Linked DNA regions of Homo sapiens. The protein of the gene in region 4 binds, or shares a complex with, the protein of the main gene of each other region. Each region holds a gene or a part of one and is shown on either strand. Other genes may lie near its edges. The genes, in order: HCAR2, HCAR3, GPR88 and GNAI1. A codon is read from its position in the direction of its gene.

What was found.
Region 1: the proteins of GNAI1 (region 4) and HCAR2 are in contact, whole or in part, in a cryo-EM structure (PDB 9IQT), measured with the Homo sapiens proteins. Residues at the interface, in NP_002060.4 of Homo sapiens: Ala31 (codon at 2,581), Arg32 (codon at 2,578), Leu194, Asp315, Thr316, Glu318, Phe336, Asp337, Thr340, Asp341, Ile343, Ile344, Lys345, Asn347, Leu348, Lys349, Asp350, Cys351, Gly352, Leu353; in NP_808219.1 of Homo sapiens: Lys60 (codon at 2,325), Ser62 (codon at 2,319), Arg63 (codon at 2,316), Leu66 (codon at 2,307), Asp124 (codon at 2,133), Arg125 (codon at 2,130), Arg128 (codon at 2,121), Val129 (codon at 2,118), Pro132 (codon at 2,109), His133 (codon at 2,106), Ala135 (codon at 2,100), Asn137 (codon at 2,094), Lys138 (codon at 2,091), Leu215 (codon at 1,860), Arg218 (codon at 1,851), Met220 (codon at 1,845), Arg222 (codon at 1,839), His223 (codon at 1,836), Ala224 (codon at 1,833), Lys225 (codon at 1,830), Ile226 (codon at 1,827), Ala229 (codon at 1,818), Ile233 (codon at 1,806), Ser298 (codon at 1,611), Pro299 (codon at 1,608), Ser300 (codon at 1,605).
Region 2: the proteins of GNAI1 (region 4) and HCAR3 are in contact, whole or in part, in a cryo-EM structure (PDB 8JEI), measured with the Homo sapiens proteins. Residues at the interface, in NP_002060.4 of Homo sapiens: Glu28 (codon at 2,590), Ala31 (codon at 2,581), Arg32 (codon at 2,578), Leu194, Asp315, Phe336, Thr340, Asp341, Ile343, Ile344, Lys345, Asn347, Leu348, Asp350, Cys351, Gly352, Leu353, Phe354; in NP_006009.2 of Homo sapiens: Lys60 (codon at 2,309), Ser62 (codon at 2,303), Arg63 (codon at 2,300), Leu66 (codon at 2,291), Asp124 (codon at 2,117), Arg125 (codon at 2,114), Arg128 (codon at 2,105), Val129 (codon at 2,102), Pro132 (codon at 2,093), His133 (codon at 2,090), Asn137 (codon at 2,078), Lys138 (codon at 2,075), Ser140 (codon at 2,069), Leu215 (codon at 1,844), Arg218 (codon at 1,835), Met220 (codon at 1,829), His223 (codon at 1,820), Lys225 (codon at 1,814), Ile226 (codon at 1,811), Ala229 (codon at 1,802), Phe232 (codon at 1,793), Ile233 (codon at 1,790), Ser298 (codon at 1,595), Pro299 (codon at 1,592).
Region 3: the proteins of GNAI1 (region 4) and GPR88 are in contact, whole or in part, in a cryo-EM structure (PDB 7EJX), measured with the Homo sapiens proteins. Residues at the interface, in NP_002060.4 of Homo sapiens: Arg24 (codon at 2,602), Glu28 (codon at 2,590), Ala31 (codon at 2,581), Arg32 (codon at 2,578), Tyr320, Asp337, Ala338, Thr340, Asp341, Ile344, Asn347, Leu348, Lys349, Asp350, Cys351, Gly352, Leu353, Phe354; in NP_071332.2 of Homo sapiens: Ser66 (codon at 1,992), Arg138 (codon at 1,776), Leu141 (codon at 1,767), Ile142 (codon at 1,764), Pro146 (codon at 1,752), Ala147 (codon at 1,749), Gln150 (codon at 1,740), Gln154 (codon at 1,728), Ile215 (codon at 1,545), Arg218 (codon at 1,536), Val219 (codon at 1,533), Ser222 (codon at 1,524), Val223 (codon at 1,521), Arg225 (codon at 1,515), Val226 (codon at 1,512), Ser285 (codon at 1,335), Val286 (codon at 1,332), Tyr336 (codon at 1,182), Arg339 (codon at 1,173), Asn340 (codon at 1,170).

The regions. Positions count from the first base shown.
Region 1 is NC_000012.12:122,700,782-122,707,298, forward strand, and holds HCAR2 (hydroxycarboxylic acid receptor 2), read right to left. Parts: upstream 2,577-6,517; 5' UTR 2,503-2,576; coding exon 1,411-2,502; 3' UTR 512-1,410; downstream 1-511. UniProt on the Homo sapiens protein: Acts as a high affinity receptor for both nicotinic acid (also known as niacin) and (D)-beta-hydroxybutyrate and mediates increased adiponectin secretion and decreased lipolysis through G(i)-protein-mediated inhibition of adenylyl cyclase.
Region 2 is NC_000012.12:122,714,252-122,720,710, forward strand, and holds HCAR3 (hydroxycarboxylic acid receptor 3), read right to left. Parts: upstream 2,561-6,459; 5' UTR 2,487-2,560; coding exon 1,323-2,486; 3' UTR 505-1,322; downstream 1-504. UniProt on the Homo sapiens protein: Receptor for 3-OH-octanoid acid mediates a negative feedback regulation of adipocyte lipolysis to counteract prolipolytic influences under conditions of physiological or pathological increases in beta-oxidation rates.
Region 3 is NC_000001.11:100,534,237-100,541,153, reverse strand, and holds the start of GPR88 (G protein-coupled receptor 88), read right to left. Parts: upstream 3,016-6,917; 5' UTR 2,652-3,015; intron 2,261-2,651; 5' UTR 2,188-2,260; coding exon 1,033-2,187; 3' UTR 1-1,032. UniProt on the Homo sapiens protein: Orphan G protein-coupled receptor implicated in a large repertoire of behavioral responses that engage motor activities, spatial learning, and emotional processing. May play a role in the regulation of cognitive and motor function.
Region 4 is NC_000007.14:80,129,955-80,137,831, reverse strand, and holds the start of GNAI1 (guanine nucleotide-binding protein G(i) subunit alpha-1), read right to left. Parts: upstream 3,002-7,877; 5' UTR 2,672-3,001; coding exon 2,554-2,671; intron 2,049-2,553; exon of another isoform or gene 1,760-2,048; intron 1-1,759. UniProt on the Homo sapiens protein: Guanine nucleotide-binding proteins (G proteins) function as transducers downstream of G protein-coupled receptors (GPCRs) in numerous signaling cascades.

The DNA.
Region 1 (6,517 bases), on a different chromosome or scaffold from region 4:
CTTCTTCCCCCAGCCTTCCCAGTAGCTGGGACTACAAGCGGCCGCCACCATGCCTGGCTAATTTTTCTTGTATTTTTAGTAGAAGTGGGGTTTCGCCATGTTGTCCAGGCTGGTCTCAAACTCCTGACCTCAGGGTGATCTGCCCACCTCGGTCCCCTCAAAGTGCTGGGATTACAGGCATGAACCATTGCACCTGGCCTTGATTCCCTGTTTAATGCACAAATACTAAGAGCAATATTCACCAAACTCTAATAAAATGTAAGTGCTCTTGCGATCCTATCTGTACTATCCTTCCAAATTATTTTTAATCCCAGCTCTTTCTATCTTTGTTTAGACACAGGTGTAATTTCTGCTTAGTTGTTTCATGATGTAGCTCAGTGTCTGTGTCTCTTTCTTACTTTGCAGTGTGGAGTAGTTTTCTACCAGGACAGAGTTAACAACCCATAAAGGTCTCTGCTTAAGTAAGAAGTCCATTTCTGTGAACCATAACCCAGATATAGCAACGCCAGACTGTCTCCTATCAAAATTTATTGAAATGGTAGATTTTTGGTAAGTACAGAAACACAAGCGAAGGAACCAGGAGGAACGTGCACCCCTCTAACTGTGGGGCAGAGGCACATTTCCCTTTTAATGTTAAAAGCAAACAGAGGTGGGAAACAGCTTTCTATCCTGAAGCCGTTTTAACTGCCCAACCCTTAGATTACTATAAACAAGAGAGGAATGGATTGCATTAGTCGCTGGTTGAAAGCAGCAATGCCATTTCCTTTCCCATAATAACACTGTTTAGCTCAGTCCCTTCTGGGGCTAATCCCCTATTACACCCACCGGAAACACAGATATTAACCAAAGCGTGTGAGTCTCTTCCCTGAGTCCATTTCTGCTAAAGCTTGTCTGAAAGATGAATTGGTCCACGGAAGCCAGGTGACCTACTGGCTTGTTTAATGATGCCTGGGCTCCCTCCAGGAGCAACACAATTCCCTCCAATCTCAGCTCTCCTTATCCCTGCTAGAGCTCACAAGCAGGCTAGATATCACCCCAGGAGCTGAGCCCCCTCCAGTCTGAGGCAGATGTGGGAAGAAGGCCAACAAGTCACAAGTAGATCTCTGGCTCCAACTCTGCTCAGCAGAAATGCCTACAATTTGCCCATCTTCAGTCCTGCGAGCGTCAGAGATGAAGCAAAAGTTTCAGATGCCTAGAAGCTTTACTCTCTATTCCTCCAGGATTCCTGCGGTCACACCTTGCAACCAGTCTCCCACTCATCTGCCACCGTTTCCCTAAATCGCATTCTCTGAATCTGGAAGTTCCAGGAAACCTTAGGCCGAGTCCAGTGACATTACTCGATGCAACAGCCCAACTGTTTCTCCAGAGATCCTGGTTCTTGGTGACAATGTCCCTTCTTGGCATGGTTATTTAAGGAGAGGTTGGGCCCAGATAAGAGGGGCTCCATGGCTCACCGGAGTTGGCCATTAACGCCTCTGGAGCGCCTCTGGTTTTGTTGGGGTCCCCTGTGAGCTCGACGCTCGTGCTGCGGTTATTATCTGGCTCACCTGTCATCTTCCTCTGGAGGCAGCGGTTGATCAAAGTGGAGAAGAAGTTGGGAAAGGATGGGCTGGAGAAGTAGTACACCACGGGGTCCAGCATGCTGTTCATGTAGGTGAAGCTGAGAGTGATAAAGAACGCCAGGTCCACCGAGCGGTACACTTCACAATTCTGCGTGCCCGAAGTGTGCAGGAGCCAGAAGATGCGGATCCGCACAACCACGCTGGGAAGGAAGCAGATGACAAAGACGATGGCCACCACCATGATGAAGGTGATGGCTCTCTTGATCTTGGCATGCCGGTCCATTTGTCTCTGCCGCAGGCTCCAGATAATTCTGGCTGAGCAGAACAGGATGATGCCCAGGGGCAGGAAGAACTCCAGGAGGAACATGGCTTCGTGCCACTGGAAGGTATGGCAGATGCTGAAGCTGCTGCACAAATTTGCACCGCCATTCTGGATCGGCATCTTCTTCTTCAGGAGGTGGACTGTCAGGCCAATAGTGATGCCCCACAGAAGGCAAGAGATGATGGCTGCTGTCCGATTGGAGATCTTGTTCAGGGCGTGGTGGGGATGGACCACCCGGAAATACCTGTCTACCGCCACCACCGTGAGGAAGATGATGCTGCCCTGGCGGTTCATAGCCAACATGAAGAGCATCAGCCGGCAAGGGATGTCCCCAAACTTCCAGTCCCAACGCCTCACATAGTTGTCCATCAGGAAGGGCAGGCAGATGATCAGTAGAAAGTCAGCCACTGCCAGGTTGAACAGGAAAATCCGGCTGGATTTCCAGGACTTGAGGTGGAAACAGAAAATCCACAGGGCAAGGCCATTGCCCAGAAGCCCGAAGATAAACTCCAGCCCCAACACCGGCGGCAACACCTTGACAATGAAGTCATCTCGGAACACACAGCAGTTCTTCTTGTCTATTTCCAGAAAGTGATCCTGCAGATGGTGCCGATTCATGAGTGCGGCTAGTGAGTCCGATGGAGCGCCTCGCCTAGTGAATGCTCCAGCAAGGAGGTGTGTGTCTGTGTGGTGAACGTGTGGTTCCACGCCTGCCTTTATGTCATGTCAGGGTGTTGAAATAGATGACTGAATGGTTACCAGGAAACTACGAAATCTCTAAAAAAAAAAAAAAAAAAAAAAGCCAGCAAGGCTCTTATGCAACCTGCTGTTTGCATAAACAAGTAATAAGAATCCCCTGGGCAGACGGGAACCCACAAAATGTCTTAAATGTAAAGGATAAGTTTAGGCAAGCCGACTGTCATTCGAAAATCAGTGAAACATGAAGGACATCCCTTTGGAAGGCTGGGTGCTTGTATGCCAACTGAGTACTCAACGTTGCAGAATTAATTCACCGTCATCTGCTTGGCTGACATAATTAACAAAACAACAACAATAGCAATAACAATTTTTGGTGCCAAACAGTGAGGTTTTCCAGAAACACTAAGAATTAGCATGAAAAATTAACAGGCATATGACATAAACAGTAGCAGACATATGATTTCTTTTGGAAATGCTGAGAAGACAGTAGTTGCCTGTTTGATGAGGACAGACTGGTTGAATTTGACCACTTTTCCTATGCTACCTTTCTGTACAAACATGGAGTGCTTTTCCATATCAGAACTCTGCCATTCATCTCCAGTTAGGAAAAAAAAAATAGCCTGCTGGAGAGTGTAATATTTCATAAGACATTTGAAAACTTGAGCCCAGTTTCAGTGGCATGTTAACATAAGTTGGGTTTTTTGTTTGTTTATATTAGATTTTGATATGCTTCTGTGCTCAAGTGATTTATTTTTAAGTATGTGATTTCTTTTTTTTGCAAACTTTGAATTAATGAGAAAAAGGATTCATGAGGCTAGTCGTAAGCTGTAGCAAATCGGGTGTACTTTGTGCTACAAATTTGTTTTTCTGTGTCGCTCTGCATGAAGAGGGGTACCTTAGGATAGAGCATGGGGTTAGTACCCCATAAGCTGTCTGTTCTAGACAGCCCAGGAAACTGGTCAGTAAGAAAGTTGGTTGCAGGTCCCTGAAACAAACAAAAAACTGGATGAGGTCTCTAACTTGTTTTATGTCCTTGGGACCTTAGGATGTGATTTTTTTTTTTTGAGACAGAGTCTCACTCTGTCACCCAGGCTGGAGAACGGTGGAACAATCTCAGCTCACTGCAACCTCCGCCTCCCAGGTTCAAGCAATTCTTCTGCCTCAGCCTCCTGAGTATCTGGGACTACAGGCGTGCGCCACCACGCCCAGCTAATTTTTTGTATTTTTAGTAAAGACGAGGTTTCACTGTGTTGGCCAGGCTGGTCTCAAACTCCTGACCTTGTGATCCGTCTGCCTCGGCCTCCCAAAGTGCTGGGATTACAGGCGTGAGCCACCGCGCCTGGCCGTGATTTTTTTTAATGAACTTTATTTTTTGGGGCAGTGTTAGATTCACAGCAAAATGGAGCAGAAAGTACGGACGGTCCTGTGCACTCTGTCTCCACACACGCAAAACCTCCCCCACTAAGTATGTGATATTTTCAAAGCCCCCATTTTTGTAAAATTAAACTTAGAGTGACAGGACCTAAGAGGACATGGAACCCCGCCTTGTAGCGGGACACCATTGCACACATTGTTTCTCTGCTTGTCAGTGCGATTGGGTGTCATCCTATAGAATGTTTTCTCCCTTTAATATTTTGGTCTTATGAATTCTTCCATGCAGGAGGTTTCTAAATTGTGTTCCTTCTACTTTGAGTTATAAAATGTAAATTTCTTCCTTTTTTTTTTTTTTTCTGTTTTTTCTTTTGAGATGGAGTTTCGCTCTGTCGCCCAGGCTGGAGTGCAGTGGCATGATCTTGGCTCACTGCAACCTCTGCCTCCCGGGTTCATGCCATTCTCCTGCCTCAGCCTCCCAAGTAGCTGAGACTACAGGTGCAAGCCACCATGCCTGGCTAATTTTTGTATTTTTAGTAGAGATGGATTTCACCATTTTGGCCAGGCTGGTCTTGAACTCCTGACTTCAAGTGATCCTCCCGCCTTGGCATCCCAAAATGCTGGGATTGCAGGTGTGAACCATCGCTGCCACCATAAGATGTCAATTTATTTCTTTAGCTGCAAACGCAGGTTCAATAATAGGAGCTTATAGACTCTTCACAGTAAACTAGAGTCAGGATGACCTAATATTAGATTCCCATAGAACTACAAGTACTTGATGATGATCCAGGTGAGATGAAGACGATGATGAAGAAGATGATGGTGGCACCTACATTATAGAGAGCTTCCCATGTGCTGGAACCCATACTCAGTGCTTTTTTTTTTTTGAGACAAAGTCTCGCTCTTGCCTCACTGCAAGCTCCGCCTCCCGGGTTCACGCCATGCTGCCTCAGCCTCCCGAGTAGCTGGGACTACAGGCACCCACCACCATGCCCAGCTAATTTTTTATATTTTTAGTAGAGACGGGATTTCACCGTGTTAGCCAGGAGCTCAGTGCTTTTATAGTTGCTTGTTTCACCCTGACTGTAGCCCATGTGGAAGGTATTATTACTGATTCTGATTTCAAAATGAGGAAAGTGAAGCTCAGAGAGGATAAAATATTCAGGGCCACCCAGCTCATAAGAGCAGAGCATGGCCGGGCATGGTGGCTCACGCCTGTAATCCCAACACTTTGGGAGGCCGAGACGGGAGGATCACAAGGTCAGGAGATCCAGACCATCTTGGCCAATATGGTGAAACCCCGTCTCTACTAAAATTTACAAAAATTAGCTGGGTGTGGTGGCGGGCGCCTATAATCCCAACTACTTGGGAGGCTGAGGCAGGAGAATCGCTTGAACCAGGGAGTTGGAGGTTGCAGAGAACCGAGATTGTGCCACTGCACTGCAGCCTGGGTGACAGAGTGAGACTCCACCAAAAAAAAAAAAAAAAAAAAAAAAAGCCGGGCACGGTGGCTCACGCCTGTAATCCCAGCACTTTTGGAGGCTGAGGTGGGTGGATCACGAGGTCAGGAGTTTGATACCAGCCTGGTCAACATGGTGAAACCCCATCTCTACTAAAATACAAAATTTAGCTGGGTGTGGTGGCACATGCCTGTAATCCCAGATACTCAGGAGGCTGAGGCAGGAGAACTGCTTGAACTGGGACCCAGGAGGCGGAGGTTGCGGTGAGCCGAGATCACACCATTGCACTACAGCCTGGGCAACAAGAGGGAAACTCTGTCTCAAAAAAAAAAAAACAACAACAAACACAGGCGTGGTGGTTCATGCCTATAATCCCAGCACTTTGGGAGACCAAGGCAGGAGGATTGCTTGAGCCCAGGAGTTCAAGACTAGTCTAGGCAATAAAGTGAGACTTTGTCTATGGAAAAAAAAAAAAAAAGAAGAAGAAGCCTTTGTAGAATTGATCTTAAGCTCTGAGGGATCCAGGTGAATAGCTCCAAGAATCAGTCAGACATGGGTCACTAGCAGAGAGAGTTGGGTCAAAGGTTTTTGGACAAACATATTGGGATAGACAAGAATGAGTGAATTTCATTTTATTTTACTTTATTTTATTTGGTACTGCTCCTTGTGGATCAGGGCTAACTCATAGGCAATGCACCTATAGTCAGCCAGGAAGGAGCAAGTTTAAATACACTGTCCCATATATTATTAATCAGTTTCCTAGTCCTGGGACTAGATCAGTTCAGTTAAACAGCTGTTTCCCATATCAGGAGGTGGCATTGCACACGGGCTAGGCCTCTATACATGATGAAGACAAACAGATTTTTAATACGAGGCATTTCTATGGAAATATAAGAAAAACAAAAGTTAATGTTGGGCACAATTTATCCAGATGTGAAACTCAAAATACCTTTAGTTATAGAGCAGGAAGGCAGTGGTAATCTGACATGTTTTTGCCACCTATATTAAAAGAATAAGCTTCAGCTTACAGGGCCTCAGGAAAAAAGGTAGTAGCAATTTTATTGAGTCCAAGTCAGAAAAGTGGAAGAAAAATGTGAAAGCAT
Region 2 (6,459 bases), on a different chromosome or scaffold from region 4:
CTCCCAGCCTTCCCAGTAGCTGGGACTACAAGCGGCCGCCACCATGCCTGGCTAATTTTTCTTGTATTTTTAGTAGAAGTGGGGTTTCACCATTTTGTCCAGGCTGGTCTCAAACTCCTTACTTCAGGTGATCTGCCCGCCTTGGCTCCCCCAAAGTGCTGGGATTACAGGCATGAACCATTGCACCTGGCCTTGATTCCCTTTTTAATGCACAAATATGAAGAGCAATATTCACCAAACTCTAATAAAATGTAAGTGCTCTTGCAATCCTATCTGTACTATCCTTCCAAATTATTTTTAATCCCAGCTCTTTCTATCTTTGTTTAGACACAGGTGTAATTTCTGCTTAGTTGTTTCATGATGTAGCTCAGTGTCTGTGTCTCTTTCTTACTTTGCAGTGTGGAGTAGTTTTCTACCAGGACAAAGTTAACAACCCATAAAGGTCTCTGCTTAAGTAAGAAGTCCATTTCTGTGAACCATAACCCAGATATAGCAACGCCAGACTGTCTCCTATCAAAATTTATTGAAATGGTAGATTTTTGGTAAGTACAGAAACACAAGCGAAGGAACCAGGAGGAACGTGCACCCCTCTACCCGTGGGGCAGAGGCACGTTTCCCTTTTAATGGTAAAAGCAAACAGGTGGGAAACAGCTTTCTATCCTGAAGCCGTTTTAACTGTTCAACCCTTAGATTACTATAAACAAGAGAGGAATGGATTGCATTAGTCGCTGGTTGAAAGCAGCAATGCCATTTCCTTTCCCATAATAACACTGTTTAGCTCAGTCCCTTCTGGGGCTAATCCCCTATTACACCCACCGGAAACACAGATACTAACCAAAGCATGTGAGTCTCTTCCCTGAGTCCATTTCTGCTAAAGATTGTCTGAAAGATGAATTGGTCCACGGAAGCCAGGTGACCTACTGGCTTGTTTAATGATGCCTGGGCTTCCTCCAGGAACAACACAATTCCCTCCAATCTCAGCTCTCCTTATCCCTGCTAGAGCTCACAAGCAGGCTAGATATCACCCCAGGAGCTGAGCCCCCTCCAGTCTGAGGCAGATGTGGGAAGAAGGCCAACAAGTCACAAGTAGATCTCTGGCTCCAACTCTGCTCAGCAGAAACGCCTACAATTTGCCCATCTTCAGTCCTGCGAGCGTCAGAGATGAAGCAAGTTTCAGATGCCTAGAAGCTTTACTCTCTGTTCCTCCAGGATTCCTGCGGTCACACCTTGCAACCAGTCTCCCACTCATCTGCCACAGTTTCCCTAAATCAGATTCTCTGAATCTGGAAGTTCCAGGAAATCTTAGGCCGAGTCCAGTGACATTACTCGATGCAACAGCCCAACTGTTTCTCCAGAGATGCTGGTTCTTGGTGACAATGTCCCTTCTTGGAATGGTTATTTGAGGTTGGGCCCAGATAAGAGGGGCTCCATGGCTCACCGGAGTTGGCGATTAACGCCTCTGGAGCGCCTCTGGTTTTGTTGGGGTCCCCTGTGAGCTCGACGCTCGTGCTGCGGTTATTATCTGGCTCACCTGTTATCTTCCTCTGGAGGCAGCGGTTGATCAAAGTGGAGAAGAAGTTGGGAAAGGATGGGCTGGAGAAGTAGTACACCACGGGGTCCAGCATGCTGTTCATGTAGGTGAAGCTGAGAGTGATAAAGAACGCCAGGTCCACCGAGCGGTACACTTCACAATTCTGCGTGCCCGAAGTGTGCAGGAGCCAGAAGATGTGGATCCGCACAACCACGCTGGGAAGGAAGCAGATGACAAAGACGATGGCCACCACCATGATGAAGGTGATGGCTCTCTTGATCTTGGCATGCCGGTCCATTTGTCTCTGCCGCAGGCTCCAGATAATTCTGGCTGAGCAGAACAGGATGATGCCCAGGGGCAGGAAGAACTCCAGGAGGAACATAGCTTCGTGCCACCGGAAGGTATGGCAGATGCTGAAGCTGATGCACACATTTGCAGTGCCATTCTGGATCAGCAACTTCTTCTTCAGGAGGTGGACTGTTAGGCCAACAGTGATGCCCCACAGAAGGCAAGAGATGATGGCTGCTGTCCAATTGGAGATCTTGTTCAGGGCGTGGTGGGGATGGACCACCCGGAAATACCTGTCTACCGCCACCACCGTGAGGAATATGATGCTGCCCTGGCGGTTCATGGCAAACATGAAGAGCACCAGCCGGCAAGGGATGTCCCCAAACTTCCAGTCTGAACGCCGCACATAGTAGTCCATCACGAACGGCAGGCAGATGATCAGTAGAAAGTCAGCTACTGCCAGGTTGAACAGGAAAATCCGGCTGGATTTCCAGGACTTGAGGTGGAAACAGAAAATCCACAGGGCAAGGCCATTGCCCAGAAGCCCAAAGATAAACTCCAGCCCCAACACCGGCGGCAACACCTTGGCAATGAAGTCATCTCGGAACACACAGCAGTTCTTCTTGTCTATTTCCAGAAAGTGATCCTGCAGATGGTGCCGATTCATGAGTGCAGCTAGTGAGTCCGATGGAGCGCCTCGCCTAGTGAATGCTCCAGCAAAGTGGCGTGTGTCTGTATGGTGAACGTGTGGTTCCGTGCCTGCCTTTATGTCATGTCAGGGTGTTGAAATAGATGACTGAATGGTTATCAGGAAACTACGAAATCTCTAAAAAAAAAAAAAAAAAAGCCAGCAAGGCTCTTATGCAACCTGCTGTTTGCATAAACAAATAATAAAAATCCCCTGGGCATACAGGAACCCACCAAATGTCTTAAATGTAAAGGATAAGTTTAGGCAAGCTGACTGTCATTCGAAAATCAGTGAAACATGAAGGACATCCCTTTGGAAGGCTGGGTGCTTGTATGCCAACTGAGTACTCAACGTTGCAGAATTAATTCACCGTCATCTGCTTGGCTGACATAATTAACAAAACAACAACAATAGCAATAATAATTTTTGGTGCCAAACAGTGAGGTTTTCCAGAAACACTAAGAATTAGCATGAAAAATTAACAGGCATATGACATAAACAGTAGCAGGCATATGATTTCTTTTGGAAATGCTGAGAAGACAGTAGTTGCCTGTTTGATGAGGACAGACTGGTTGAATTTGACCACTTTTCCTATGCTACCTTTCTGTACAAACATGGAGTGCTTTTCCATATCAGAACTCTGCCATTCATCTCCAGTTAGGAAAAAAAAAAAAGCCTGCTGGAGAGTGTAATATTTCATAAGATGTTTGAAAACTTGAGCCCAGTTTCAGTGGCATGTTAAAATAAGTTGGGTTTTTTGTTTGTTTATATTAGATTTTGATATGCTTCTGTGCTCAAGTGATTTAAGTATGTGATTTCTTTTTTTTGCAAACTTTGAATTAATGAGAAAAGGATTCATGAGGCTAGTTGTAAGCTGTAGCAAATCGGGTGTACTTTGTGCTACAAATTTGTTTTTCTGTGTCGCTCTGCATGAAGAGGGGTACCTTAGGATAGAGCATGGGGTTAGTACCCCATAAGCTGTCTGTTCTAGACAGCCCAGGAAACTGGTCAGTAAGAAAGTTGGTTGCAGGTCCCTGAAACAAACAAAAAACTGGATGAGGTCTCTAACTTGTTTTATGTCCTTGGGACCTTAGGATGTGATTTTTTTTTTTTGAGACAGAGTCTCACTCTGTCACCCAGGCTGGAGAACGGTGGAACAATCTCAGCTCACTGCAACCTCCGCCTCCCAGGTTCAAGCAATTCTTCTGCCTCAGCCTCCTGAGTATCTGGGACTACAGGCGTGCGCCACCACGCCCAGCTAATTTTTTGTATTTTTAGTAAAGACGAGGTTTCACTGTGTTGGCCAGGCTGGTCTCGAACTCCTGACCTTGTGATCCACCCGCCTCGGTCTCCCAAAGTGCTGTGATTACAGGCGTGAGCCACTGCGCCTGGCCGTGATTTTTTTTTTTTAATGAACTTTATTTTTTAGGGCAGTTTTAGATTCACAGCAAAATTGAGCAGAAAGTACGGACGGTCCTGTGCACTCTGTCTCCACACACGCAAAACCTCCCCCACTAAGTATGTGATATTTTTAAAGCCCCCATTTTTGTAAAATTAAACTTAGAGTGACAGGACCTAAGAGGACATGGAACCCTGCCTTGTAGCGGGACACCATTGCACACATTGTTTCTCTGCTTGTCAGTGCGATTGGGTGTCATCCTATAGAATGTTTTCTCCCTTTAATATTTTGGTCTTATGAATTCTTCCATGCAGGAGACTTCTAAACTATGTTGCTTCTACTTTGAGTTATATAATGTAAATTTCTTCCTTTTTTTTTTTTTTTCTTTTGAGATGGAGTTTCACTCTATCGCCCAGGCTGGAGTGCAGTGGCTCACTGCAACCTCTGCCTCCTGGGTTCCAGTCATTCTCCTGCCTCAGCCTCCCAAGTAGCTGAGACTACAGGTGCCCGCCACCGTGCCTGGCTAATTTTTGTATTTTTTAATAGAGATGGATTTCACCATTTTGGCCAGGCTGGTCTTGAACTCCTGACTTCAAGTGATCCTCCCGCCTTGGCATCCCAAAGTGCTGGGCTTACAGGTGTGAACCATCACTGCCGGCCATAAGATGTCAATTTATTTCTTTAGCTGCAAACGCAGGTTCAATAATAGGAGCTTATAGAGTCTTCAAGTAAACTAGAGTTAGGATGACCTAATATTAGGTTCCCATAGAACTACAAGTACTTGATGATGATCCAGGTGAGATGAAGACAATGATGAAGATGATGGTGGCACCTACATTATAGAGAGCTTCCCATGTGCTGGAACCCATACTCAGTGCTTTTTTTTTTTTGAGACAAAGTCTCGCTCTCGCCTCACTGCAAGCCCCGCCTCCTGGGTTCACGCCATGCTGCCTCAGCCTCCCGAGTAGCTGGGACTACAGGCACCCGCCACCACGCCTAGCTAATTTTTTGTATTTTTAGTAGAGATGGGGTTTCACCATGTTAGCCAGGAGCTCAGTGCTTTTATAGTTGCTTGTTTCACTCTGACTGTAGCCCATGTGGAAGGTATTATTATTGATTCTGATTTCAAATGAGGAAAGTGAAGCTCAGAGAGGATAAAATATTCAGGGCCACCCAGCTCATAAGAGCAGAGCATGGCCGGGCGCGGTGGCTCACGCCTGTAATCCCAACACTTTGGGAGGCCGAGACGGGAGGATCACAAGGTCAGGAGATCCAGACCATCTTGGCCAATATGGTGAAACCCCGTCTCTACTAAAGTATACAAAAATTAGCTGGGCGTGGTGGCGGGCGCCTGTAATCCCAGCCACTTGGGAGGCTGAGGCAGGAGAATCGCTTGAACCAGGGAGTTGGAGGTTGCAGTGAACCAAGATTGTGCCACTGCACTGCAGCCTGGGTGACAGAGCGAGACTCCACCAAACAAACAAACAAACAAACAAAAAAACCCGGGCACAGTGGCTCACGCCTGTAATCCCAGCACTTTGGGAGGCTGAGGTGGGCGGATCACGAGGTCAGGAGTTTGATACCAGCCTGGTCAACATGGTGAAATCAGATCTCTACTAAAAATACAAAATTTAGCTGGGTGTGGTGGCGCGTGCCTGTAATCCCAGCTACTCAGTAGCGGAGGCAGGAGAACTGCTTGAACTGGGACCCAGGAGGCGGAGGTTGCGGTGAGCTGAGATGACGCCATTGCACTACAGCCTGGGCAACAAGAGTGAAACTCTGTTTAGAAAAAAAAAAAAAAAAAACAGAGGCCAGGCGCCGTGGCTCACGCCTGTAATCCAAGCACTTTGGGAGGCTGAGGCGGGCGGATCACGAGGTCAGGAGATCGAGACCATCCTGGCTAACACGGTGAAACCCTGTCTCTACTAAAAATACAAAAACAAAAAATTAGCCAGGCGTCGTGGCGGGCACCTGTAGTCCCAGCTACTTGGGAGGCTGAGGCAGGGGAATGGCATGAACCAGGGAGGCGGAGCTTGCAGTGAGCCTAGATCGTGCCAATGCACTCCAGCCTGGGTGACAGAGTGAGATCCTGTCTCAAAACTAAAAGAAAAAAAACAGCTGAGCTTGGATTTGAATCTGGCAGTGACTTCAAAGCCTGTGTCCCTAACCATCATGCTCACTGCCTCTTACTATGTTATTGCCTTGTCTGTAAGGTTGAAGATCTTGCTCAGGGCATGGTGGGGATGGAGGTCATGCTGTTCAGGCTTTAGTGAAATAATTGGTATTTGTTTCTTGTTCTTGCTGCCTGTGAATACCATGCTTCCTTCTTGGATGTATGTGGACACTTGTCAACAACATTCATAAAGTAATCCTAAGGGCCTTTATTAACTAAGAGTCAGAGAAGTCAGCAGTATTTATTTCTAGAAGCTGAAATTTGCAAGGGACTCTCCCTTTCTAAGTTTCACAATTTCATAATATTTTGTGTGTGTGTTTTTTTTTAAACAATAGTCATGGATAAAATTAGAAAAAAACAACCACAGGCCAGGCCTGGTG
Region 3 (6,917 bases), on a different chromosome or scaffold from region 4:
AGGAGCATGCAATAGCAGCTAATATTAGCTATGCAGTCATGGTATTATTAGTGTTTAATTATATCATGTGCATTGAGATATTTTAAATGTTAAAGAGAAAACAGAAGGACTTATTCTTCTTAGCAACCATTATAGTACAGAATGTTCAAAGCTGCAATCACATTCATAAGGCAAATAAATTGGTTACAAAATGAGGGTAGCAACAAGTGTGCATGCTATAGAAAATGTGAAACGGTACCTAAAATAGATAATCACCTTATTTGTTTTCAAAATTCCAGTGCTGGCTCTGACCATCAATTATCAAACTGGAAAATTTTCACTATAACACTCAACGCCAATTTTCAGTCTTAAGAGTGCGAAAAAAAAGGAGCATAAAATAATTTTTTTTCTCACTGGCTAAGATTCTACCTCATTTGAGAAAGACTTTATTAAAAACCCTTTTAAGAATAAAGGGCTTGAGGTCTTAATGGCAACTCATACTGGTGGGCACACCTAGGGCTTCACTGCCCCAGGGTAATATACAAAAACTAAATGGTAAGAGAAGCATCATCAAAGACAGGTTACTTTCTAAAATACTTTCTACATATTGTTTTCCTTCTTCAATGTTATTTCCTTTGGTTCATGCACACTCAAGGCGCTTCATATATAAGACGATGAAAGTGGAAAGGGTTATACATTATGAAAGCTCTTTTTCAAAAACAAACTGTGTGGAAATAAATTAACCGGTTATTTTAAAACGCCAGTTTGCAAGTTCTTCAAGTCTCTGGTGTTTTGACTTTAGGATTCCTCTAAAACACAGAAACAAAGGGTAAAAATCAGGTGGCCGTCCAAAATGACTTCGGGCGCCCCACTTAAAGAGACGCCTTGGTTCAGGTAGCCCGCTGGGGTCGAAGGCCCCATTTTCCCCCGATCTATCGGGCTTCGCGGCGGAAGTCTTCGTTCAGGCAGGGGATGCCCTAGGAGGGAAGGAGGCGACGGTGCCCAAGGACGTCGGAAGCCGGGGATCTCCGCTTCCCTCGGGCCCCGGCTAGGTTACCAGTGCTGGCCCGCGGCGCGGGTGCCCAGTTGCGCCTGGGACACTGCGGGCACGGCTGTGGCGGCAACGGCAGCGGCCGCCGCGTCGCCGACGCCCGGCAGGACTGAGCGCACGGAGCGGCGGAACTCCTCGTTCCTCCACGTGTAGAGCAGCGGATTGAGCGCGGACAGGGCGCAGCACAGGAGCCAGCTGGCCGCCTGCACTCCCCAGGGCACCGGCAGCGAGAAGCCGCTGGCCAGGCTCACCCACACCAGTGGCTGCGTGGCCAGCAGGAAGACGCAGCAGAGCAGCAGCACCGACAGGCCGCTGAGACGCCGCTGTGCCCGCCGCGGGTGCAGCGCGGGCGGCAGGGGCTGGGCCTGCGCCGGGTGCGCGGCGCCACCGGGGCCCGGCGCGTGCTGGGCGCCCGGGAAGGCGGCGGCGGCGGCGGCGCAGCCGGGCAACTGGTGCAGCAGGTGGAAGTTGAGCACGCTGACCCGCTTGACGCTGACACGCACGCGGCGCACGATGCCCAGGTAGCAGTGCAGCAGCAGAGCTGTCTGCGCCAGCAGCGCCGCGGCGGCCAGCAGCGCCGGGTAGTGGACTCGCGGTGGCGCGGCGCCGGGCCGCGGTGCCCAGGGCGGGAGCAGCAGCACGAGGCCCAGGGCGAGCGCCCAGGACAGCGCCAGCATGCCCGCCGTGTGGCGCCTCTGGTACAGCGCCTGGTAGGTGGCGGGCGCCCGGGTGATGAGCAGGTAGCGGTTCAGGGCCACGAGGCAGTGGGAGAGGAGGGACACCGTGAGTCCGAGGCCCAGCAGCCCACCCCGTAGCAGGCGGTAGCTGCCCCCAGCGCCGTCCCAGTCTGCGGGGGGCTCCGCAGAGCCGGTGGGCAGGAGCCCGAGCACCGCCTCCTGCGGCATCCAGAGGGCGCAGACGCTGAGGTCGGCGGCGCAGCCGTTCACGATGAAGGCGTTGCTGGTGGTCTGCAGCTTTCGGAAGGACGACACGAGATAGATGACCATGCCGTTGGCCAGCGTGCCCCCGATGGCCAGGCCCGAATACAGGAGTGACACCGGGATGCGCCGGCCCGCCCACGACTCCTCTTCCTCGCAGAGCAGCAGCAGCGAGCCACCGGTGGTGGAGGAGGTGGATGTGGAGGAGGAGTTGGTCATTCTGGCCAACTCTTCACACCTCCCTCGCTAGCGTCGGCTTCTGGCAGCGCGGTCCATCCTGACACTGTCCTGCCTGCCAGAAGGGCAAAGACATCCCTTCAGCCCTCTGCCACTGACACAAAAGGCTGAAGCAGAATAATGGGCTGGGGGAGGGGGAGAAAGGGAGCTCGAGGAGGAGGACGGGGGTGGCAGATGACAGGTGCCTGCCTCGGAAATGTCTCCAGAGCCAGGGGAAAGGCCACTTTGCATTGGATTCAGCAGGTATCGGGGAAGCCCTAGGACAGAGCAATACCTAAAACAGTCTCCTCTTCTCCCCCAACACACACACACACACACAGAGAGAGAGAGAGAGAGAGAGAGAGAGAGAGAGAGAGAGATATGTTGCCAGCTGGAGGACCTAGTTCCAGGAGAAAGCAGAGATATCCCAGCTGGGGAAAATCCCATGGGAAAGAGGTGAAGGTTACCTTGCGTTTAGGCTGGTCCTTAGCCGGTGTCTCAGGGGGAGGGATGCCGGGAAATACCTCCTCAGCAACAGCATCAGTGGTCCAGAAATCAACAGGAGAAACTCAGCTGGGATCAGTGCCAGGAGCAAGTGCCCGCTTCTCCCAAGCAGCATCCACACACATGGTCCTGGGCAGGAACTAGCAGCTGCAGGGAGACTTCTCAGCTGGTATCAGGGCTGGAGAAAGTAAAGTGGCGGGCTGCAAGCCCAGGCGGGTGGGCAGGCAGGCAGCAGCAGCAAGAATGCTTGGCTGCAAAAGCAGAAGCTGAGCTCAAGAGGAGAGCACCCTGTGCTCAGAAGCAGGAGTGGTGGCTGATGTGGTGAACCCACTCGAAGCTCTCTCCTGCTTAGTTATACATCATCCAGGGAAAAGACAGCCTTTCCACGCTTGGCATGAATTATTCAATAGCTTCCAACTTGTAAAAGGAAGAAAAATATCTTGCTCAGAAAGTCCTGTCGTTAACAAGTTTCTCTGTCTTTTCTCTCTCCCAATCACCTTATTTTTCATCCTGTTTCATTTTTCTTTCCGTCCTTTTTTTCCCTCCCTTCAATATTAGAATAAAATTTAATATACCCTAGAGTATTTCATCTCAGTCTGATGCATTTTGTGGGCAAGATTTTTCTGTGAGATAAATATATTCCCAGTACCCAGGACTGATCTCTTTATTCCCACATTTTTTAACGAGAATTACTTTATGCACTACTTGAAATTCATTTTTCTTTGGTAAAGTGGAACATAGACAATTATCCACAGAAAATCTCCATTCCTCAATTTAAATCGTACTTTCAGTGTTTTCTCATCAACAAACTCCTTTCCGGAGTTTGTTTTGTGTTTTAGTAATGAAATGGTTAGAGGGTAAAAATGAAATGGGCAAAAGATTTAAAGCAGATGTCAGTGGTACATCTAGACAATGGAATATTATTCAGTGCTAAAAAGAAATGAGCTGTCCAGCCATGAAAAGACATGAAGGAACCTTAAGTGTGTATCACTAAGTGACAGAAGCCAACTGGAAAGGACTACATACTGTATGCTACCAACTATGACATTCTTGAGAAGGCAAAACTATGGAGACAGTTAAAAAGACCAGTGGTTGCCCGAGTTAGGGGGAAAGGAGGAATGAATAGATGATCACGGAAGATTCTTAGGACAGTGGAACTACTCTGTATGATACCATAATAGTGGATCTGTGTACTTATAAATTTGCCCAAAGTGGCAGAATGTGAAACATCAGTGTAAGCCATGGACTTTGGGGAATGATGTGTCAACGTACATTCAATTGTAACAGACGAACCACTCTGGTGGGGGATTTTGATAATGGGAGAGGCTATGTATGCGAGGGGCAGGGAGTACATGGGAAATCTCTGTATCTTTCACTCAAATTTGCCATGAATCTAAAATTGCTCTAAAAAAATAAAGTCAATTTTAAAAAAATGTGTGTCAGGGGGAAAGCAAGAAACCTGAATAATCCACAGTGTGAACAAAGATGACTTTTCACTTCAGAACTTTTTGTCTTGTCTGTCTTGGAGATTTGCAGTCTGATGTTGGCATCTTCTTTGGTGCAAGTGTTCATTTATCCATTCCATGTGGGAATTTTTTCAGAAAAGGAGTTCTCTCAATTATTCACTGGAAAAGTCATGTATTTGAAAATGTAACTCAATATGGGAATATGGTAACATGGCATAATAGAAAAAAATGTTAGGTGGGGTTGCAGCACACCCAGATACTAAGCCGAGCATCCATCATGTAGCCTTGCGATGGATTATTTTCATCTTGTCAAATAAGTTCACAGTCAGTCACTTCAAAGGCCCTTTCTGTTAAAACTTTCTGTGAATCCCTATTCATGAATTTAGCATTTCTTCTCTCTAATTATGACACATGGCATATACCTCTTCTATCTAACATGCATTGCAGTTGTAGTTCTGGGTCATATGTCCCTAAGAGCAATGTTTCAGGAGAGAGGTCAAAACACAGCTTCTCTGCTTTTCTTTTTCTATTTCAAAATCAATATGGTTAGTTGATGACTTCAAGAACTCTGATGAGGATTAAGGATAAGCATGACTTGATAGATTTGGTCCAGCTAAGCTATATCTGAATGAAATTGGTTGGGGCAGGGGCAGGGGCCGGAGGGGGAAGTGAAAGAAAAGAACCAGTGACTTGCTATTCAGAGGGTTGAAGGTTTCGATATCAAGTTTACTGATGTAAATGAGATGAGTATTTGTCATCATCTTTTTGCCTATTGCCATTTGTCCTTATTGAGGTTTTGAGTGCATTAAGCACAGCAAGCCTGCATTTCTCCTTTCTAGTTATGACACATGGCGTATACCTCTTCTCTGTAACATGCATTGTAGTTCTGGCCCATATGTCCAGGAGTCTTTTCCACTCTGTCCCTAAGAGCAATGTTTCAGGAGAAAGGAGACTCTCCTAATCATTCATAGTTAAAACTTGCCATTGAAGTAAAGTTTTTTCTCTCACATTAACATAGTCCTAAAGGACTCTCTGATAGAATGTGGTGGGAGGGTATTCAAATTCTGGATCCCTGGTCCCAGCTGCCACTTTGTGTTGCCTTTGAGACGAGCAGCATTCCTGCTGAGGGACTCCAGTGCCTGGCAGTCACACACACTTCCTCCAAGACCATGCCTCCCTTAGCGCTGGCCTGACAGGGGCCAAATTTTTGTTTGTTTCTGGATTTGGTTTTCCTTTTGTTTTAAGTTAATGAACTTACATAATATAGGGTGGGAATTTTTTCTATCTTATTTCCAGCACCAGGTCAGTGCCTGGGACATAGTAGAAACTTAATCAATACTTACTGAATTAATAAGTGAATGGCAGTGTAAATGATTTCATTTATGTTTTCTCCACGGTGAAACAGTAATTCACTTTTATGAGCATCTCTTTCCTCCCACCTTCAGCAGGAACTTGCCCCATCAGTCATCTGCTTTCTGCTGTCTCTTGTCAGTCTCTCTGCTCTCCACTGCTTGCTCCCCTTCAGACTTACAAAAATGCTGATTTCACCACAACCTCATAAAACTCCCCTGGAACTTCACCTCCTTCTCATGGTGCCTACACACAGCTCACTTCCCCTTCCTGATGGAAGTGCTCATTTTCTCCTTCTACTTCTGATTTTACCATTGAATACCCACCCACACGGCCCTTAGCTCTCCCTGCTCCACAGAAACAGCTTTGGCCAAGGTTAACAGTAGCCTCTCAGTAGCAAATCGTGACTCCTAAATCCTTGCCCTCTACTTTGACTCTGTGAAGAACACCCTCCTCCTCAGTGCCATTTCCCTCCAGGTTTCCCTTTGCTTCTGTTCCTCTGTCTGCTCCCTTCCAGACTCAGTCTCTGGCTCCCCAGTGTCATGGCTCCTTTAAGATAGTGTTCCTGGCTTCTCTTCTTGGTTCTCTTCTCACCCTACTCTCTCTCCCTAATTGATCTCATCTGATTCCTGCCTTCCACTCTCGCCTATGGGTCACCCACAGATTCTTTCCCACCAAGCTTACTTCTTTCCAGAGTTGCAGACGTGTTGGAACTCTCCATTCGGCTGGCCTCTCTCCCTCCTCATCCCACTCATTCTCCTATGGTCACTGATTTGGTTAATAGTCCCCATTGTTACCCTAGTGTTTCTAATAATTCACTATCAAATATGGTGTTTGTTATAGTTTTCTGATATATTGTTTATAAGTTAGAGACATTTCTATCTATTTCTAGTATGACTTTTATATGAAGTGAATTTTTTTTTAGCTGTTGATGTAGTAGGTTACATTTGATATATTTTTAAAAGTTGAATCATCTTTGCATTCCTCTGATAAACCCTGTTTGGTTACAATATATTATCCTTTTAAAGATAGACTGTAGGATTCTATTTGGTAGTATTTTATTTAAGAGTTTTGCATCATAAGTAAAGCCCACTTGGTTTATTTTTCTTGTGCCATCTTGTCCTTTCTTAGTGTCAAGGTTAAGATAAAATTCCCCCCAGGAGTTATTTCACCACTGCTACATCCACATCCACATTCCAGCCCACAGAGATGGAGAAAGATGAAGGGAGGGCAGCCAGCTTCCTTTTTAAGATTTCAGGAGAATCATAAACATCATTATTTTCAATGCCGTCGAGTACATACCATATGTGCCAAGCCATGCTTTGAGTATTTTTTATCTGTTGTTACATTTATTCCTCATGCCAGGGTGACAAGGTACCCAGTCTCCCCCACCCCCCCCACCTAAATTTGCAG
Region 4 (7,877 bases):
GGCAAAAGGGTAGACTAGAACGGGGATAAGACAGAGGAGAGTGCTGGGCCAGCAGGGACAGCCAGGATTTCCAGAGAGGAGAGAGGTAGGGAAAAGCAAAAGACCAAAGCTAGAAAAGACAGCCAAAAGAATTCAGTCACTTAAAGATTTCTAAAAATCATTCTGAAATATTTCCAATGGTACCAGTACTGGTTTAGAGAAATAAGAATTCTGGCCGGGCAAGGTGGCTCACGCCTGTAATCCCAGAACTTCGGGAGGCTGAGGCGGGCGGATCACCTGAGGTCAGGAATTGGAGACCAGCGTGGCCAACATGGTGAAACCCGGTCTCTACTAAAAATACAAAATTAGCCGAGCATGGTGGCACGCACCTGTAGTCCCGGGTACTCGGGAGGCTGAGGCTGGAGAATCGCTTGAACCCAGGAGGTGAAGGTTGCAGTGAGCCGAGATCGGGCCACTGCACTCCAGCCTGGGCGACTGCGCAAGACTCCGTCTCAAAAAAAAAAAAAAAAAAAAAGAAAAGAAAAGAAAAAAAAAAAAAGAAAAAAGAAAAAGAAATAAGAATTCCATAATTTCTTCTGAAAATGAGGCCTCTGCTACATCTTTCTCTGAACTCACTTATGATGACTGTCAAGATTCAACTTCTGGTTCTGTATTATACATTCAGTTATATTTAAGTCTTAATCTAGAACAGTGGTCCTTAACTAACGCTGTATTTTGCCCCCAGAGGACTTCTAGCAATATGTGGAAACACTTTTGGAGCTCACAGGTTAGGGGGCTGCTACTAGCATCCAATGAGCGGAGGCCAAAGATGCTGCTGAACATCCTACAATGCACAAAAACAACCTGGAGAACAAAGAATTACCCAGCCCCAAATGCCAACCGTGCTAAGATCAAGACACACTGATCTCTTCTGAACATAAGCAAAAGCCTACTCCTGGGACCTTTATTCTAGTCCATCCCTAACAGTCACCTAATTAAAGGACAAAACACCACCACCAGATGATTCATTTTTCAATTGCTTTAAACATGGTGGATGGCTGGCTCAAACTAAGAGTCACACAGAAATACACTGAAACAACGTATCACACCAGGAGAGCAAAAACTGCAAGAAAAAAACTTCTTAATCCTCTTATTTCATATCTATCTCACATTCAATTCACAAGAGAAGTACATACACTAACCTCATCAAAACACAGTATTTCTTATTAATGTAAAAACTTAGGCAAACAACATTAACTGAGAAAGATTTATGTTGGGGGCGACAGGGTGAAAAAAGCCACCCAGGTCTTTAAAATGCAAAGTTATTTCACAGTTTACTTGCAAAATGACTCAGATCATTATTACTTTTAGTCATGCCAACTTTGCTGCTCCCAAGCCTACTAGTAATGGAGAAAAAAAACCCACCATTTTTTCTGCAGTCATTAAACCAATGAAACAGAAGCTTACTGAAAACAGGTTTGTGCAACATTTCTTTTTTATTATAACTGGTATAAAAATACAAGCAGTCCTTGGAAATGCAAATGAAGATTCTGAGAAATTTTTCATCTATCTAAATACCTAGAGTGTGAGAAGAAAACATGCAAACAAAAGAAAACCCTAACTCACGAATCTTAACCTGTAAAGATTTTCCTAATGCTTCCCTCAGTGAAAACCCTGGTTTACTCTTTATTTTCTTCCCCGTCAAACATTTGGAAAAGACCTCCACGTAGCGTTTCACGAACAGAACAGTGCTAAGAACAAATAAAAGCCTTGCGTGTACCTGGCAAATCTCATTCATCAGAAACGGTGGCAGCGGAGACAGAACCCTGTTGTCTGGCGTGACCCTCTCGCTCTTTCACAGCAGTTTTCACCACTCGAGTATCTGCCTTGCCTACTACTAAAGCAAAGCTTCCCAACCCCACTTGGGTGGCTTCCATGCCCCCACAGCAAGAAAAATCAAGCATCCAGCGCAGCCTTTTCTCAGCGCAGGGGGAATGTAATCAGCGCTCCTTGACCACTTAAGGAGTCGCCATAGGAAGTTAACAGGAAAGACGCTTCAGCCCCATCTCAGAGGCCCCACAAAAGGTGCACTGATTTCACCAAACGTGGCACTCTGGGCATGAGAAAACCACAGTCGAAACACAACCTACACCGCACACGAAGAAGGGTTTTCCGGGAGGGGGTTGGTGGCGCGGGGGGGGGGGTGTTTTCATTTTCTAGCCGCGAATGCCCCTTCATCTTTACAAGGCTGAGCTAAACTTCAAAGCAAAGGGTTTCCACGCGACCCGCCGCCTCGGACTCGCGCCTGGGCTCTTTGCTGGGTCGCACGAAAGCATCCGAGTGAAGTGACGCGCCCGCCCCGCCGCGGGGAGTCCTCGCCCGCCGGGGCGGAGAGAGACCAGACACCGGGAGAGGGGGACCCGCCTTGCCTCCGCACCGCCGGACCCAGCTCCCGCTCAGAAGCCTCCTCGGGCGCTTCCTCCCCCTTCCCTCCGGGTTTCCAAACGCCGAGGGCCGCGCAGCGCCGCACCCGGTCCCCCGCCGACCCCCGGGCCCCGACCCGGCCGCCCTTACCGAGCAGCAGCAGCTTGACCTCGCGCGCCGCCTTCTCGCCGTCCTCACGGAGGTTGCGGTCGATCATCTTACTCCGCTCCACCGCCGCCTTGTCCTCGGCGCTCAGCGTGCAGCCCATGGTGCCGAAAGCGAGAGCCTGCCGCCGCTCCCTCCGCGCCCGAGTGCGGGCTCCAAGCACAGGGGAATCCTTTCTCTCTCCTAGCGGGCGTTCGAACGCCTCCCGACGGGGGCCACGCCGCCCCCACCACTTCCTAAGCGGAGTCGAGGGAGACGCTGTCCGCAAAGGGGCAGACAGCAACGGGCGGCTGTTCCTCACGACCAGGCTCTGCTTCCCGGCCCGGCTCAGCGCCCCCAAGTCCCGGGTTTGGGGTTTTGAATCTCTGGGTACAGTGGCCGCTGCACTCCCGCCGGTGGCCGCGCCGCAGCCTCGCCAAGCCCAGCCGAGCTCGGCCTCCGCGCGCCGCCGCGGCCCCGCCCCTGCCCGCCCCTCCCACCACCCCGCGACCACTCCCAGAGCGCGCGCCCGCGCACGTGCCCTCGGACAGCGCCCCCCGGCCCCGGACCCCGGCGCCGCGCCACCACTGAGGGCCTGGCGCCCCCTGGCAGCGTCCCCGGGGCGCGCCACTGCCCCGCGGGGCTGTGGCCTTCTGCCCTGGGCGGGAGTGGGGTAATTTCTTTCCGTTTACTCACACGGAGGGAGCTGTGCGTACCTGCCCCTTCGGGTGGGGGTGGGAGAGCTGCCAAAGTTGCCGAAAAAAGCCAGTTCTGGGCGTTTGAGCATGCCCAGCGCCGGCAGCCACGCAAGGTTTTTCAAAATGCAAATCCCTGTCGGCTGGTTTCAGGGCCGTGAGAAACAGGGAACTGGGGAAGGAATGGAGCCTGGTGAAACCAGAGATGGGCACAGTGGAGAACAGGAAAGTCGGGGGAGGGGACTAGAAAAGGGCACCAAGGTCACTTTCTTCCTACCTTTTGCTTCTCTTTCCTTCTTCCTATCCCTCCCTCTTTCCTTGCACTCTCACGTTTTTCACAAGAACGCATTTTGAAGGATTTCCTCGTAACCTAAAAAAAATGGAAGACAAATAATCAAAAGTATTTTTAAATGACAAGAGCAATAAAACACACCCACACAAGCCAATCTCCACATCGTAGCAGATCTCCTCTAGAGCAGCACATAAGCTTCCATGCCAAATTTGGAGCCAATATTTATGACCGTGTTTGTAACTCCTGTACCATTGGGCATGCCATTTTTACAGGCCTTAGCTTCTTTGCCCATAAAATGAGGAGTGGATCTATGGTGCTATCTCCCCATCCTTCCAGCTGTAACAATCGGCGGAGATAAGTTCCTGTGGCCCGCGGGAGGCATTGCTACTCAGCACCCAATGAATGAGCAGAGGCTTAAGATCTCATCTCTCCCTGTCAGTTGCACTACACCTTTCCCCTACAGATATCACAGGAAGCGTTAACTGATTAGAAAATGGGGCTGGTAGCAAGGAAAAACATGGTCCTTGATGTACTAAAAATTGGAACATGCTCCCTGGTTTTCATCTGGAAATCTTATTCTCTAAAAATCATTTGGGAAAACTGGGCTTGAGTTTTCCAAGGTGAGGCTGAACTGATGATACAAGCAGAATAGCTTTCGAGTAGGTCACTGAGACCACGCTTGTGAGCTAGCAGAGACTGAGTTGCCTCCTTATGGGACATGTCCTTTCCTGTTCTCCTATGGGAGTCACACCACCTGCTGGGCTGATGAGATGCAATTTCAAGATCTGCCTCAACTATAATCTTTTGTAATATAACAACAAAAAGGAACAATCTTTAAATGTACTTAGTCACCTTCTACACTGTAATTCTAGGCACTCTAAATGCTAATGTGTATCAGAACTCTGGAATTAAACTTAAGGAAATCAAATTTCAACACACTGTGTATTAGCCATTCTTAATTATCTTTTATGGTGAGTCTTTCCTATTAAGTTCGGACCAGAGTGTGGAACCAACAGTTTCAGCAAAAGAAGAAGCAGTGCTGGCTGAATATTGGTAGAAATGACTACAAAACTTGTGTTTCGGAGAAATGAAGTATGTGTAACAGAAGTTTGTCAAATAGGTAACATTACTTCCATCCTTTGAAGTTAGTCAAATAGGTGAGTTAAAATGTGATACATAAACGAATAAGAACAGCAAATTAGATTTATATGTAGCACAATTCCTAAGAGAATGCAGAGTAATGAACTGATCAGTATGGGGGGAAATTCTAAGATAAGAAAGTTTTGAAAAAACGTTTGAAGGAAATGATAACAGGATATTGGTGGGGAGTTTAAAGAAGTATGTATTAGTTCAGGCTGCCCTAAAAATACCATAGCCTGAGTGGCTGAAACAATAGGAATATATTTCTCACCGTTCTGGAAGCTGGTAAACCTAAGATTAAGGTGCCAGTTTATTCAGTTCCTCAGTGAGGGTTCTGCTGCTGCCTTGCAGATGGCCTCTTTCTTGCTGCGTCCTCACATGGCAGAGCAAGAGAGAGAGAGCTTGAAAGCAGTCTGGTCTCTCCTCTTCTTATAAAGGCCCTGTCTTAAAGGCCCCACTCTCAAGACCTCATCCAAATCTAATTACCTCCCAAAGGTTCCATCTCCAAATACCATCGTATTGTGGGTTAGGGCTTTGGAGACATTCAGGCCATAATAGGGTATATTTTGTTTGAGGGGAATAACCAGCTAAACAGTTAATATGCAAGATACGTGAAAGAGAAAACAATGGTTTTATAACTGAAAGTTGTTTGGTTGTGAAGAATGATAGGATGTGTGGGACAAAGTTGGTGTGAAGAATGATGGGATGTATGGGACAAAGTTGGAAGACAGCTTTAAATGCTAAGGTGAAGGGTTGGACTTGATACAGTGGGTACAAAGTGCTCCTTACATTCTTTCCTGAGTTGGGTACTAGATGTTAAAAAGCAAAGAAATAAAAAAACCCTCTTACCACTACATGTAAAACAAATGGGTACCAGCAAGTGAATTGTGTTAGTAATCCAAATGTGAGGTGGTGAGAGTCACTCAAGCTAATAACTTATGTAATTATGATGTTGCAAAATATGATTCAACCTTGTCAAGGAGATGAAGCAGATATTATTTATTTATCTCTTTTATACAGAGTGAAATTGAAATTATAGAGGTTAAAGCACTCTACTTCAGAATACTGTTTTTTCTTTTCAACATCATGTTTGTTTTTTAACAGCTTTTTTTTTTTTTTCCCTCGGGTTCAAGCTTTTTTGAGATATAAGTCATATGCCATAGAATTTGCCTATTTAAAGTGTACACTTCAGTGGCTTTCAGTATATTCACAGAGTTGTGCAACCATGATTACAATCAATTGTAGAATATTTTCATCACCACAAAAAGAAGCTCTGCATTCCTTAGCCATCATCTCCAATCCTTTATCTTTCCCCAGATCTAGACAACCGCTAATCTAATTTCTGTCTCTTTAGATTTGCCTATTCTGACATTTTATATAAAAGGAATCATATAGTGTACAGTATTTTGTGACTGGCTGCCTTCAGTTAGCATAAAGTTTTCAGGGTTCATCCATGTAGCATCCACCAGTACTTTATTTCTTCTTATTTCTGAATAATACTGAACATTATATGTTAAGAGAGTTAGAGACATATGTTAAAAGACAAATTAGAACACATTCAGCTGAGAGCCTCAGGTTTTCAAAGTAGCTACAAACTATGTCATAAGGAATAATTGAAGAAATTGGGGGATATTTAATGTAGGAATGAGAAGATATGACTGAAGAGATGTCATAAATCAAAAGGAATAGACTTTTTTAGCTGGCTTCAAGGTGGTGTTGAAACCTGTAGCAAACAAAATTTTGCCTTGCTATGTTGTGAATGGGAGACTTACCATATGGAATTAAGAAGTAAACATGGAGAATGCAGAAGCTGAATAAGGAGACTTTTTCAAGAATCTTAACCATGGAGAGGGGTTGACACATGGGATGGTAGTTGGAGAGGTAGGTTTGGAATTTGTTTCATTTCACTTGTAACTCTTCTCAAATATTATTCAACTGAGAAAAAAGGATTGCTATTGATATGGTTTCACTGTGATCCCAACTAAATCTCAGGTTAAATTGTAATAATCCCCACATGTCAAGGGTGGGACCAGGTGGAGATAATTGAATCATGAGGTCAAATTCCCCCATACTGTTCTCCTGGTAGTGAATAAGTCTCATGAGAGCCAATGGTTTTATAAGTAGGAGTTTTCCTGCATAAGCTTTCTTGCCTGCTGCCATGTAAGACGTGACTTTGCTCCTCCTTTGCCTTCCACCATGATTGTGAGGCCTCCCTAGCCATGCTGAACTGTGAGTCAATTAAACCTCTTTCCTTTATAAATTGCCCAGTCTTGGGTATGTCTTTATTAGCAGCATAAGAACAGACTGATACAGTTATGGGACAAAGGAAAAAATATGGCCACCCTACTTTCTGACCACCACTTCAGACCTTTTCATCTCACCCTCTGTTACGTTATTACCATCAATTCTCCAGTCCCACAGAGACCTTCCATCTACCGACCACATGCCTTTTCTCTTTCTGTCGTGTGCTGCATGTGCTAATGTCTCTCCTTATGCAACTTATATCCCATCTTCCATCAGGACAATTATTCCTTTGCAATATCCTCAAAACACTCCCACCATTGTATTCAACAGGAAAAACTTCAAATCTGGTTAAATCTACTCTGCCTCTGTATGACTATACCTGTTCAGCTGAGCTTGAACAGAGGAAAACACGGTAATCAACAACTCCACATTTCTGTTTGCTCAGGCCAAATACTTGGAGTCATCCTAGATTCTTTCCTTTCCTGCAAGCCTTAGTTATTCAATCTGTTAGGAAATCCTACTAACTTTGTCTTCAAATATAACCAGAACTTGGCCAAATATCGCCATCTTTACTGATAGACACTGGAGATATTTATCAAATATTAAATAACCTGCTTTCTGCTCCCTCTACTTTTACCTTAATCGCTTACTGTTCCCACCTAGCAGCCAGATGCATCCTTTTAAAATGTCAGGGAGAACTATCCATTCACTTTCCATCTCACTTAGAGGAAAATCTCATCTAAAATCCTTATGATGGCATACAAGGACTTACCCTTTTTTTTAACCATGTGCCTCCCCATAGTATTTTCTGCCATTCTCCTTGTTGTCTGGTTCAGCCTCCCTGACCTCCAGACTGTTTGAACTTGCCAAACACACTCCATCATTGGCCTTGGCATTTATGCTCCCCCTGCCTGGAACACTCTTGAGCCAGGTATCTGCTTGACTCACTCCCTTATTTC